Homo sapiens: one gene and its partners. The protein of the gene in region 4 purifies or fractionates together with the protein of the main gene of each other region. This does not show direct contact. Each region holds a gene or a part of one and is shown on either strand. Other genes may lie near its edges.

The links. Proteins that work in one complex are often made in the same cells at the same time.
Region 1: the proteins of MPPE1 (region 4) and LRRC3 purify together in Homo sapiens (affinity purification with mass spectrometry; 2 studies listed by BioGRID and IntAct, with this or other methods). This does not show direct contact.
Region 2: the proteins of MPPE1 (region 4) and EDEM1 purify together in Homo sapiens (affinity purification with mass spectrometry; 2 studies listed by BioGRID and IntAct, with this or other methods). This does not show direct contact.
Region 3: the proteins of MPPE1 (region 4) and UGT3A2 purify together in Homo sapiens (affinity purification with mass spectrometry; 2 studies listed by BioGRID and IntAct, with this or other methods). This does not show direct contact.

Annotation. Positions count from the first base shown.
Region 1 is NC_000021.9:44,459,419-44,462,696, forward strand, and holds the end of LRRC3 (leucine-rich repeat-containing protein 3 precursor), read left to right. Parts: 3' UTR 1-2,778; downstream 2,779-3,278.
Region 2 is NC_000003.12:5,197,707-5,201,206, forward strand, and holds part of EDEM1 (ER degradation-enhancing alpha-mannosidase-like protein 1), read left to right. Parts: intron 1-1,885; coding exon 1,886-1,989; intron 1,990-3,500. UniProt on the Homo sapiens protein: Extracts misfolded glycoproteins, but not glycoproteins undergoing productive folding, from the calnexin cycle.
Region 3 is NC_000005.10:36,046,383-36,049,882, reverse strand, and holds part of UGT3A2 (UDP-glucuronosyltransferase 3A2 isoform 1 precursor), read left to right. Parts: intron 1-462; coding exon 463-994; intron 995-3,500. UniProt on the Homo sapiens protein: UDP-glucuronosyltransferases catalyze phase II biotransformation reactions in which lipophilic substrates are conjugated with glucuronic acid to increase water solubility and enhance excretion.
Region 4 is NC_000018.10:11,901,818-11,905,317, reverse strand, and holds part of MPPE1 (metallophosphoesterase 1), read left to right. Parts: intron 1-2,461; exon of another isoform or gene 2,462-3,051; intron 3,052-3,500.

The DNA.
Region 1 (3,278 bases), on a different chromosome or scaffold from region 4:
GATGCAGGTAGGGCAGGTGAACTGTTGCTGGCCTGGCCAGCAGGCCTAGGGTCACATGGTGATTGGCGTCCTCCTGCCACCCCTTCTCCATGCCAGGGTGCCTGTGGTGGGTTTGCCCAGCACGCATGACCCCAGGTCCCAAGGAGAGTGTGAACTGAGGCCTGGGTGGTGAAGGCAGGGCCTCTCCTCAGCCCTGTGTCCTGTGGGTGCCAGCCAGTCCCATCTCGCATTTTGGGGTGCCCTTTCCCTGCTGCCAGGGGACTCTTCATTTGTCCTTACCCTAGAATCAGCCCAGACACTGGACATCACCCAGACGTGGCCCTTCAGGAGGTGCACAGGGCAGGGGCAGGCCCGTCCCTCCCTGCCCCAATTTGCTGGGCTGCCTCAGCCCAGGGTCTGGCCTTCTCCTTGGTGAAGGTCTGCTGGGCCCCTGTCCACCTCCTGCTGGGAGGAGGAGATGGGGAGAGGACCAGGAGGACACCGGAGGCCCTGTCCCCTGCACTGTGAGCTCAGTCAGGTCCATGAGCTGCCCACCGTCCTGGCCTTACTGTGCCCCCTGCCCCACCAACATAGGTGAAAGCACCTCCCCTCTAAGGAAGACCATAGAGACCCCAACACTGTGGGACCCCAAAGCTCCTTCATGCTCACTGGAGCTCCCACCGTGGGTGCTTGCAAGTCCTCAGCGCTCCCGGGGTACAGCCCTCCCCTTCCTGCCCTCTAATGTCCTCCCCTCCCTTGCCCTTCCCTCCACTTCCTTTCTCTGCCGTCCCCTCCTCTCCCATCTTGTGACCTCTTTACTGGCGGGGCCTGGAGCCCATGATGGACACTTGCGGAAGGAGGGGTGGCGGAGCACCCCTGAGATGACATCGCTGCCTGCCCCAGAGCACCCCGCCTCTCCCTGTGACTCAGTTCTTTGCAGCCCAGATGTGAGCATGTGCACCCTGGGACCTGCTGCCCGTTGGGATGCCCAGGCCAAATCAGCCCCTCTGCCTCCATGCTGCACTGATTGCAAGAGTTTCCCACATCTGCAGAGGCCGTGGGCTCAGCCCCACACCAGCCAGGCCACCAGTGTTGATAGCGGTGAGGCGGGGACAAAGGGAATGTCTCAGTTCACAGTGTGGACATGGTGGAGGTCTCGGCCTTGCGAGACAAGGCAGGGGGAGGGGATAGGAAATTGGGGGTATTCTGTGACTCCTGGGCCACCGGGGAGCCAGAATCTTCCAGCCAGACTGGATGGGCAGGGCTTAGCTTCCTGATGCCGCCCATTCACCACTTTCACCCCGGGAACCTACCTGGGCATCATGGGAGGCAGAGCCTGAACCCCAACCCAACCCTAACTCTAATGCTAACCCCTAAACCATCCCCCACCCTAACCCAATCCTCGCCCTAACCCTAATGCTAACCCCTGACCCGACCCAATCCTAACCCTGATGCTAACCCCTGACTCAACTCTCACCCTAACCCTGATGCTAACCCCTGACCCAATCCTCACCCTAACCCTGATACTAACCCTTAACCTAACCCAACCCAGCCCTAACTCCAACTCTAAAGCTAACTCCTAACCCTAGGAGAGGAGCCCAGGCCGGGCCCTCTCCCTGCTGGTTTCCTGTTGGGCTTTGGAGCCCCAGATGCCTGCCCAGAGGCTTCCTTGTGCGGGGTGGGGTCCAGCAGTGGGGGATGGGCCCAGAGCTGGTATAGCCACCAGCAGAGCCATCCTGATCCACAGGACCATCCCTGGTGGGGTGGGGCCCCCTGGGGCAGGAAGGCCACTGAGGCCAGGGAGACTCCCAGGCCCACTCACGGCGCAGGCCCCACAGGAGCTGGCTGGAGGCTATGGGTGCGGGGCGTGGGCCTGCCGGGGGTTGCGTGACAGGCAGTGGGGAGTGGGTTGTGCTGGCAGCTGTGGGTGAGTGAGGAGGCTCCTCTCATGAAGGGCCCTGGGGAAGTGGAATCTGGCCCTGAGAGACCCCCGGCCTCCTCTGCAGGGGCTGCTGGCAGGAGGGGAACCGGGGACCACCTCCCGCCACAGAGCCTGGGGCCCCCAGCCTTGCCTACAGGGAGGGTAGATGAGAGTGTAAACTGCATATGAGGTTGGGCTAAACCTGGACATGTGTTTCATAACCAAAGCAGCCAGGAATCTCCGGCTCTGCCCAGTGATCATCTGGGCAGGACATGGGGACGAGTGTCCAGGCTGAAGTCAGGGCCCGGCCAGCAGAGGGCCATTTTGTATTGAGCTCCACAGCTGGTCACATTCTGTGGAATGTGCAGACGTGCACGGCCCATCAGACAGGGTCTGGAGTGGGGCTGCCGTCTTGGGCAGCTCCTCCCGGGTGTCTGCAAAATGCAGAGGTCACCAGAGCCAAGGCAGCAAGGCAAGGAGCCCGGCTTCTAAGGAACTCTGAGCAGGTGTGGTCCATGGCTGGGAGGCAGCTGGCCCCACAGCACATAGCACGGAGGGCGGCGCGGAGTCCTGGACGCTCTTGGCAGGTCCCCTCATGGAGGATGTGGGGGATTGGCTTAGGCCTGGTCTGGCTGGCCTTCCTGGACCGCAGTGGCCAGGAGCTGAAAACCGTGACCCCAGTCTCCCTGCAGCTGTTCTTGATGGGATTTCTGTTCGCCAGTCAGATGCATTTGCACAGGACTTGGATCCTGAACTGTGTAACCTGGAGAGGCAGGTGTGAGCGGGCCATGCTGCTGGCCCAGCCTGTGCCGGTGTCTGTTTCTGTTGTCTCTCGGCCCTTCTGTGAGCCCTCAGTAAAGCTCTTCGTGCTTCAGTCAGCAAGTGTGGATTCTGTCGTCGGCAACTCTGCGGCCCAAACCCCGAGCCTCCCCCTCCCCCAGACCTTGCAGTGCCATGGAGCTGAGGGACCTGTGGATCCACAGCTGTGGCCCCGGAAGGGCTGCAGGAGCTGAACCTGCGTGAGCCCCGCAGAGGGTGCAGAGCCGGCTTGTGCAGGCTCCCAGCAGGCTCATGACAGCGCGGATGGTTAAATGTAGCTCCTGACAGCCAACTGTTAAGGTTTCAGGCATTTTTGCACCAGGTGACATGATGGTAGCCTGAACGTGACCTTGGCAGCAGTCTCTACATCAAGGAAACTGGCAAATGTCAACATGCTGGGTACCCTCGCTCCTGCCGCCGCAGGCTGTCAGTGTCTTCCAGCCCACACTGCGGGGGGCCTTGTTGTGTGGCTGCCTCCCAGGCTGGGGCGAGGGTCTCCAGAGACCACCATCGTGCAGGCTCTTGGTCAATAGCAGGGTGTGGTGCTCCTGCCAGGGGA
Region 2 (3,500 bases), on a different chromosome or scaffold from region 4:
CTTTAACAGATGTGCTAGGGAAACACTGTGAAGATAGCAGTCCCCTGACCATTGGATGCAACTTGCAGCATTATTGCATCATCTTCTAAAAAGAAAGAACTGAAAGCTAGAAATGTCTGTACTTACTCTGTAGGTTACAGCAAAATAACGATGAGGTGGAAAAAATGTAGTTAGGCACAGCTTGGTTTTATACATTGTAGGGAGACATGAGACATCAATCAGTATGTGTAAGATGTACATTGGTTCAGTCCAGAAAAGTGAGACAACTTGAAGTGCTGGGGGTGGGGTGAGGGGGCACTTCCAAGTCACAGGCAGATAAAAGACAAATGGTTACATTTTTTTTGTCTTTTTTTTTTGAGACAGAGTCTTGCTGTGTTGCCCAGGCTGGAGTGCAGTGGTGAGATCTCGGCTCACTGCACCCTCCACCTTCCCAGGGGTTCAAGCAGTTCTTGTGCCTCAGCCTCCCGAGTAGCTGGGATTACAGGCATGCGCCACCACGCCTGGCTAATTTTTTGTATTTTTAGTAGAGACAAGGTTTTGCCATGTTGGCCAGGCTGGTTTTGAACTCTTGGCCTGAAGTGATCCGCTCGCTTTGGCCTCCCTAAGTATGGGCTTACAGACCTGAGCCACCGTGTCCAGCCGGTTGACTCTCTGATTAGCCTTTCACGGAATATACAGTTTACCTGTGACAAAGGTAGAGGAATAGTCACTTATGCCTTTGTCTGGCTTAGTGAATCTGCAGTTTTACATAAACAGTAGGGCAGAGGAAGCAATCAGATATGCATTTTTCTTAGGTGAGCAGAGGGATGACTGAGTTCTGTCCTTTGTTTGTACCTGTGAAGATAAACTGTCAATTTACATTGCCTGGGTGAAATTCAGCAGAATTGTTTTGAGGGGAAGATCTTGAGGCCCACAAGGAATTTCCTTGTAGGTAAATTGTAAGGGACGTATATAGCTTTTTTTTTTTTTTTTTTTTTTGAATCTTTGTAGCTATCTTATTTAGGAATAAAATGGGAGGCAGGTTTGCCTGATGCAGTTCCTAGCTTGACTTTTCCCTTTGGCTTAGTGATTTTGGGGTCCCAGAAATTTATTTTTCTATCACAGTATGTCCTTATGATGTCATTATAGTCTCAGGGTTGTCATAAAATTTAGAGTGGAATGAAATAATTTTGATTCAGGTTAATCTATAAAGTTTGATGCCCAACTGTGCTTCACATAGGAGAGAGTGGCTTAGTGTGACGTCGTATCTACATACCCAAAATAGGAATCATAATTCTAGATCACTTTTTAAAAAGGACATAGAGCTGATTATTCATATGTTTTGTTTCTTTTAAATCAGTCACTGGTTTTATCCTGTGCTCCAAAAGATATTACCACTATTTCTCAAAGTGTTTAGGCATCTGGATAACAATCAACAAGTTCATTCAGTTTTCCACATGTTTTGGTCTCCTGGGAGCCAAGCACCCAAGCTGCTGATTTATTTGAGGAGCAGAGAGAAAGACATATTTTTGTTTCTTCAGTTTTCTGATTTATTTGTATACCTGCCAGAAGTTTTAGAAACCACAATGCCTGGCATGTTAAATAAGATCATAGTGAAGTTTGCTGGAGAGTGGAGTTGGGAAGATGAGGAGTGCCAATGATTTTACAAGGAATTATTTTCACAGTTTTGTCCTTTGGAGACAGGACTCTTGAGTTGGAGGAAATGGGCCAGCCATGTGCTGGGAATATATGCTAAGAAATAACTGCTTTTCTGTCTCTTGTGTTTCTACTCCTATGGTAGCAAAACCACATACAGACATTTAGGTGACGTGACTGGGCTGCTGTGATGATACAGCCTCAGTTTCATTTCAAGTTGCTGTAATGACCTGTGTTCCTCTTTTTAAAGATAATGGGAAATTCATCCGAGTTCCAGAAAGCCGTCAAGTTAGTGATCAACACAGTTTCATTTGACAAAGATTCCACCGTCCAAGTCTTTGAGGCCACGATAAGGTAAAATAATGAATATTCATAAAATGAATTGGAGACTTCTTTTTATGTGTTTAAAGAAAAAAATACCTTTGAGGGTCTTTTTGCCACATGATCCAGGCAGGGAGTCCATATGGGCTTTATGGGTGCAGTGTGCATTTTTCATGTTCATATCTGTCAAAACTGGAACAATTATTTCAAAGTAATCACATTCCGGACTGAAGGGAAAGACACGTTTGTATTTTGTTTTGTTTTTATAGATTAAACTCTTTTTTTTTTTTTTTTTGAAATGGAGTCTCTGCCACCTAGGCTGGAGGGCAGTGGTGCAATCTTGGCTCACTGCAATCTCCACCTCCCAGGTTCAAGGCATTCTCATATCTCAGCCTCCAGAGTAGCTGGGATTACAGGCACTCACCACCACACCTAAGTTTTGTATTTTCAGTAGAGATGAGATTTCACCATGTTGGCCAGGCTGGTCTCGAACTCCTGACCTCAAGTGATCCGCCTGCCTTGGCCTCCCAAAGTGCTGGGATAACAGGCATGAGCCACCATGCCTGGGTACATTTATGTTTTAACGGGGGTGTAAAATAGGTGTCTGTCTAGTACAGAATTTCATGGTTTCCCTTTATAGTCTGATTTCATTTTCTTCTTTCACCGTGTCCTAGGACAACCCCTACATATTTCTGAAGGAAATGAGAGTTTCCCATCTTACCACCCACAGAAAATCACTGCTTACCATTTTAGTATATTTCTTTGTTAGGTATATCTCTCACTTCTATTTCTCTCTCTGTCTCTCTCTTTTTCTCTATTTGTTTAGTGGATTGGGATCATGCTGTATACCTAGTATATTGTATATTGCTTTTTTTGATACATTGTGGTTATTTTCCTGTTTACATCTTTTGAAAATTGTATCAACTGCATAACATTCCAGTTCACAGATGTAATACTTATTTAAAATTAAATTGGTGAAAACCTTTGTTCTGACATATATCACAGCCTACTTCAGATCTTTAGAATGGGACTTTATGGGTCTACAAGGACTTAGGTATAAGCTGGTAGCCTGCTGCCTCTTAGTAGGTCATTTTTTCCTCCTCCTCTTCACCTTGCCTCTTTACCAGATGTTACGGTGTTAGGGAAGTTGCTTGGCAGCCAAAACAACAAAAATTACTTAGTATTTGTTGTCTTACCTTTCTCTGTTTTTTTTTTTTTAATTTGAATTAAATTAAATTTTTTTTTTCATTTTAGAGCAGGGTCTTGCTCTGTTGCCCAGGCTGAAGTGCAGTGGTGCTATCACGGCTCACTGCAGCCTTGAACTCCTGGGCTCAAGCGATCCTCCCACCTCAGCCTCCCAAATAGCTGGGACTACAGGCAAATGTCACCATGCCCAGCTTCTGTTTTTTTATGAGTGTTTTCCCCAAGTGAAATAAATCAGGAGTAATTTAATAATACTAATAGGTAATATTTATTCTGAGAACAGTTAGTACACTCTTATTTTTTTTTTTAAGAGACAGGGTCCTGCTCTGTTACACAGGCTA
Region 3 (3,500 bases), on a different chromosome or scaffold from region 4:
CATAGTGCTAAAACGTAGCACATATCATCAATATTGATAAACTCTATCATCAAGTTACTTACACAATTTGGTTGGATAAATAAGAAAATCACTCATAAAAACTCCATGTGTAAATGAGGGCTAAACAGAGTGTCACCTAATTTATCAATGAGATAGAACTCTGAGATCTGCTGCTCTGAGAGATGGCTCCCAGAGTAGAAGACCTTGAGTCGGCATTGATGGTGGTTGGGATTTGGATAAGGAGAGAAAAGGGGAAGGGAGAAGGGTACACTCTAGGGAGTAGAAACATTTAAGCCAGGATAATTATGGCAGAGGGTATTTGTGGGAAACTGGTTGAATTTGTGGGTGACTGCTAGAAAGGTTGTTGCTTTCCTGGGATATTTTCTTTGTATCTCAAGATACTTTTATGTACTGTAAATTTAACACTTCCCATGAATATTTATTATCATTTTTTTCTTACAGAGGAAAATTTGAAAACTTATTAAATGTTCTAGAATACTTGGCGTTGCAGTGCAGTCATTTTTTAAATAGAAAGGATATCATGGATTCCTTAAAGAATGAGAACTTCGACATGGTGATAGTTGAAACTTTTGACTACTGTCCTTTCCTGATTGCTGAGAAGCTTGGGAAGCCATTTGTGGCCATTCTTTCCACTTCATTCGGCTCTTTGGAATTTGGGCTACCAATCCCCTTGTCTTATGTTCCAGTATTCCGTTCCTTGCTGACTGATCACATGGACTTCTGGGGCCGAGTGAAGAATTTTCTGATGTTCTTTAGTTTCTGCAGGAGGCAACAGCACATGCAGTCTACATTTGACAACACCATCAAGGAACATTTCACAGAAGGCTCTAGGCCAGTTTTGTCTCATCTTCTACTGAAAGCAGAGTTGTGGTTCATTAACTCTGACTTTGCCTTTGATTTTGCTCGACCTCTGCTTCCCAACACTGTTTATGTTGGAGGCTTGATGGAAAAACCTATTAAACCAGTACCACAAGTAAGTGAACCCTCAGCATTCAGTTTGGGATTCACGCAGAGGCCTTCAGTGCATAGTTGGTGGCTGCCACTTGCCAGTAGGATCCTGAGGCTAAAGTCGGGATAGGCAAGGGAGGCACCTAGGGCATGCTTTTAAAGGAAGTGATGAGTTTCAGTGTTGTGCAAGTATAATGTTAGGCCTTGCACCATCCTGAGATCAAGGGCATCTTTATATGGATTCTTCTGGCTCCTCTCTTGCCACACCCTAGTCCTAGCCTTGATAAAATAAGCCCTGTATTAAAGTTTCATTTTTTGTTTGCATTTTTATTTTGTGTGATCACATGTACAATAAACATGTAGTTAGTGCCCATTACATGCAGTAATTGTTAAGGAGATAAGCTGCTCACAATGAAATGACAACACTATGGATTCGGAGTAAGCAGGGTGGATCTGTTTGGGTCTGACAGCAAGAACTGCCGGTGTTATCTCCAGGGTTCCCTGCCTGTAGAGCCCTGGCTCCTGGCTCCACCTAGATCTTCTGGCTTGATTTCTCTGGGGTGGACCCCTGCCACTGTAATTTGCATATGCTGCTCAGGTGATTTGAATGCACAGCGCAATTTCACAACTCAGAACCTCTGCTATAGAAATTTTTCAAAAGGAGGAGAGCTAAGATGAGTTGGCTGCCTGTTGCCTCTGAGCACTGGGTTCCCATTTTACAGAAGTTATCATATTTAATATCCTGCCACCTGTAGGGAGGTGTGATCATCTTCATTTTTATAAATGGAGAAGGACAGAAGCTCAGGTGATGTAGGTGTCCTTCCCCCACCATGTATTTCAGAGGTCCTAAGGGCCTGGACTTTGCAGCCACCCAAGCGTCTACTCTTTTAACTTGCACTGAGTGAGCAGGAAGAGTTGGGGAAAGACCTATGGGTGATATGGGCTTTGCATTTGTGGCAGGAAGTTTTAGGAATGGAGCTGAGAGGGAAAGCACCCCAGGTTGGGGAGCAGGGGTCCCAATACGTGGAGATGTAATTGAGATGGCCATAAGGCTGGCTTCCCTGGGTGGCACTGGCTACACTAGTGGAGTAGAAGGTTCAATTGCATGAGTAAAGCTGTGGGGATTTACCAGAAACCTTAGCTATCAGGTGGGTGGATCAGGCCTCCACCATGGAGTAAGGGGAGGACATTGTTAAGAGGATAACAATGGGAGTAAGGGTTGTAATGGCTGTGAGACAATATACACTTAAAAAAAATTATGTTTCTTCTCTGCATTTTCCAATTTTTATATAATGGTCTTATGTTGCCTTGTCAGTATAAAAATGATGACAAGGCTGTTTTAAAGAAGTCCTTGGGAATGGTAAGTGGTATGCTGGCTGGAATCCAGTAGAGTCTGAACCACGTAATAGAATGATGGGTTGGGAGCTGGGGTGAGCCCCTGTAGGGCAGAGAGAATCAGAATCAGAGTTCAAAGAAATATTTGGAAGTAAGAATTGGCAAAATTGTGCCAAACACAAAATGAAGACATTAGATATTGTGAGCCCAAAATATATGACGCTGGTCTCACCAATTTAGAAACTTTATTTGCCAAGGTTGAGGATGCACCCATGACAGCTTCAGGAGGTCCTGATGACATGTGCCCAAGGTGGTTGGGGCACAGGCTGGTTTTATACATTTTAGGGAGACATGAGACACCAATCAATATGTGTAAGATAAACATTGGTTTGGTCCAGAAAGGCCGGAGAAGGGGATTCTAGGTCATAGGTAGACAAGAGACAAACAACTGCATTTTTTGGAGTCTCTGACTAGCCTTTCACTGAGTGCACAATTTACAGAAATAATCACTTATGCCTTAGTCTGGGTTAGTGAAACAATAGGACAGAGGAAGCGAGCCGACATACACTTGTTTAGGAATGGAATGGGAGGAAGTTTTGCCTGATGCAGTTCCCAGCTTGACTTTTCTCTTTGGCTTAGATTTGGGGATCCTGAGATTTATTTTCCTTTCAAAACACTAACTTTGTTAAGAGCTACCTGGGGGACTTTAAGATATAAGCTGTCCAGGCCTGCTTTTGGGACAGAGCATTACTACTTTATTATTATTTTTTTAATCCACCACATCAAGGCATTGATCATTTCTTTATGTTACAAACATTCCAATTATATTCTTTTAGTTACTTGAAAATATACTACAAATTATTGTTGACTGTAGTCACCCTGTTGTGCTATCAAACACTGGACCTTATACATTCTAACTATATTTTCGTACCATTAACCATACCCACTCCCCCAGCCCCTAACTACCCATCCCAGCGTCTGGTAACAATCGTTCTGCTATCTCCATGAGTTTAATTGTTTTAATTTTTAGCTCCCATAAATGAGTGAGAACATGCAGTTTGTCTTTCCGTGTCTGGCTTAGTTCACTTAACATAATGTATTCTAGTTTCATCCATATTGTTGCAAATGACAGGATCCCTTTGTTTTTTATGGCTGATGAGTTCTCCATTGTGTACATATACTATATTTTCCTTATC
Region 4 (3,500 bases):
TTTGTTTTGTTTTGAGACAGTCTCCCTCTGTCGCCCAGACTGGAGTGCAGTGGCCCAATCTCTGCTCATTGCAAGCTCTGCCTCCCAGGTTCAACTGATTTTCCTGCCTCAGCCTCCTGAGTAGCTGGGATTACAGGTGTGCACTACTACACTAGGCTAATTTTTGTATTTTTAGTAGAGACGGGGTTTTGCCATGTTGGCCAGGATGGTCTTGAACTCCTGGCCTCAAGTGATCTCCCTGCCTCCACCTCCCAAAGTGCTGGGATTACAGGGTGTGAGCCACCTGCCCAGAAGGTGTTCTGTTTAAGGATCTGCTGTCAAAAGTTTTCTAAATAGGTTTTTGTTCTGTTATCTTTTTTTTTCTTCTTTTTTTTTGAGATGGAGTCTCGCTCTGTCGCCTAGGCTGGAGTGCTATGGTGAAATCTCGGCTCACTGCAACCTCCGCCTCCTGGGTTCAAGTGATTCTTGTGCCTCAACCTCCCAAGTAGCTGAGATTACACGCTCACTCAACCACACCCGGCTAATTTTTGTATTAAATATATTTAGTAGAGATGGGGTTTCACCATGTTGGCTAGGCTGGTCTTGAACTCCTGGCCTCAAATGGTCCACCTGCCTTTGTCTCCCAAAGTGCTGGGATTACAGGCATGAGCCACCATGCCCCGCACAGCCACTCTTATCTTTTAAAAAATGATCATGTTGGGCTGGGCGCAGTGGCTCATGTCTGTAATCCCAGTATTTTGGGAGGCCGAGGCCAGTGGATCACTTGAGCCTAGGAGTTTGCCACCAGCCTAAGCGACATGGTGAAACCCTGTCTCTACAAAAAATGCAAAAATTGGTGGGGCGTGGTGGCACACACTCACCTGTAATCCCAGCTGCTCCAGAGGCTGAAGTGGGAGGATAGCTTGAGTCCAGGAGGCGGAGGTTGCACTGAGCTGGGATCACACTACTGTACTCCAGCGTGGGTGACAGGGCGAGACCTTGTCTCAAAAAAAAATAAATAAATAAATAAAAAAGATTATGTTATACCAGATAGCTGCTTCACATGGTTATTAGGGTCTTCTCAGGAAAATATGTAACAGTGCCAGCCAGCTTGCTTGCTCTCTTTCTCTGTCCTGTTTGCTCCCCCATCCCCTTCTGCTCTTCTCTCCTTTTCTACTGTCCTCCTTCCTTCTTTCCTTCCAAGTCTTCCTCTGGTTGAATGGCTCTGTGTAGGATATTTTAAATTCATTTTTGGAAAAAAGAATGTTAGGGGTAGAAGGTATTTGATTTACAAGTGGCAAATCCATACAGATCTGCAGCAACCTCAATTCTTGCCTGCTCAGAAAAAAATAATTCCACTGAGGGGCATAAGGCAGAAAAAGAGACTGAGGCAAGTTTCTGAGCAGGAGTGAAAGTTATTAAAAAGCTTTAGAGCAGGAAAGAAAGAAAAGTACATTTGGAAGAGACCCAAGAGGGCAATGTGAAGGTCAAGTGCAGTGTTTTTTGTTTTTGTTTTTGTTTTTTTGTTTTTTTGAGACGGAGTCTCGCTCTGTCCCCCAGGCTGGAGTGCAATGGCGCGATCTCGGTTCACTGCAAGCTCCGCCTCCTGGGTTCACGCCATTCTCCTGCCTCAGCCTCCTGAGTAGCTGGGACTATAGGCACCTGCAACCACGCCCGGCTAATTTTTTGTATTTTTAGTAGAGATGGGGTTTCACTGTGTTAGCCAGGATGGTCTCGATCTCCTAACCTTGTGATCCGCCCGCCTCGGCCTCCCAAAGTGCTGGGATTACAGGCGTGAGCCACCGTGCCCAGCCAAGTGCAGTGTTTAACCGTAATCCTAGGACTTTATAGGCTGACCCACTTCTGGCGTCTTGCACCCCTCCCTTCTCCATGATTCATCCCTTAGGGTGGGCTGCCTGCATGCACAGTGCCCTTCTTAAGCTTGGGAGGTGAGCATGAGCAGTGTGTTTAGGAAGTTGTACGCATGCCCATCTGTGGCTTTCTTTTTCCTGTGGAGTGCCCCCAGAAGGTCATACTCTGCCATTTTGTCTCCTGATGTGTATGCCCAGGAAGTTGCCCCTCTCTGGCATCTGCATTTAATTAACACTTTAATGTGGCAGCTGTGGACCCTCAGGAGATTGTCTCTCCTTGGCGCTGGCTGCTAAATGATCGTTTTTAGAGAGGCAATATGTTAACTGTTGAATGGGCACCTGGTGATCACCTGACATTCCTGGTAGGTGGGAAGAGCCCTCACCTGCCCCGCTCATGCCTGCCTATCTGTAACAAGAACACAGAAGTTTGAGGGAAGCGCCAGAACTCCCCTCTAACCCGGTTTGTTTGCAGTAAGGTCGCTTATCTGCAAGGAGTAAGAGGCCATGCTGAGTGAGCTCAGTGGGGAGTTGGGGCAGGGAGAGCCCAGGTTGCCTGGAAGTGCAAACCCACAGGCTGTCTCTATGTCCTCTGTCCTGCTCTCTTCATCCAGGGAAGCTGGAGGACTGCAGTTTTGCATCCTATCCTGCCCTGAGCCTCACTTTGGGCTGTCAGCCAGCCTTGTCTCCAGCCTGCTCACCACTCACTGATGCTTTTTGCGCCTCTTAGTCATAACTGCTCAAACAAGGCTCACTCTGATGAAGAGAAGGGGGTGTAGAAGAGGAATTATCAAGGTGTCATTCTGGTATTTCATCTTGGGAAACCAGAAACCTACCAAACAGCAAGGGTTTGCATACTGGAAGACTCCTCAGCCTGCCCCAGAAGGTCAGCATTCCTTCCCTCTCAACTAGTTCTGTACAGCTGGAGGAAACATAAGGTGTTAGAAAGTTTCAGCTATGGTTTTGGGTTTAGCTTTTAGGATTTTAGGAGATTCTAGGCCTTTTGAAAGAAAAATGAGATAGTAAGATCGAATGGCTGCCTTTGACATATTTGATTTAATCACAACAAAGGAAATTGCCTGGCGTTAAGGAACCTGTTATTTATCCCTCAGAGGCTCTCCAGCAGAGAACCCAGGCCCTTCACCATACTGGTGCATGGTTCCTGCCACTTGTGCAGTCCATTCCGAAGTTTCTTACAGATGAGGTGGGTGACTGCAAACAGGCACTGCTGCTTCTCCTCTATGTCAGAGTAAGCACAGGCAGCACAGGGTGGCTGCACATCCTGAGTTGTCTGGGACAGTCCTGGTTTACACCATTGCCCTGTTTTAATTTTTATTAGTGATATTTTTCACTCAAAGCTGTCCCCAGTTGGAAGATAAAGGTATGTTGTGACTGCGATTATGCGGCATGTGTGGTTTGCCTTAGAGAAAAGAGAGGTGACAAAAGTTCTAAGTGAAGAAGATAAAGTACAGCTTGACCAGCTGATAAAGATGTTGTGGGGTTTTGGAGGAGAATTTCAGCAAGAGCAGTTGACTCCAGATGATATGCAAGGCTGCTTTTGACCTCTCTGTCTGAAAGGACATAGTTAAAATCCAGTATTTGTTTGCCGTTCCCCCTTTATTTATTTATTTTGAGATGGAGTCTCACTCTGTT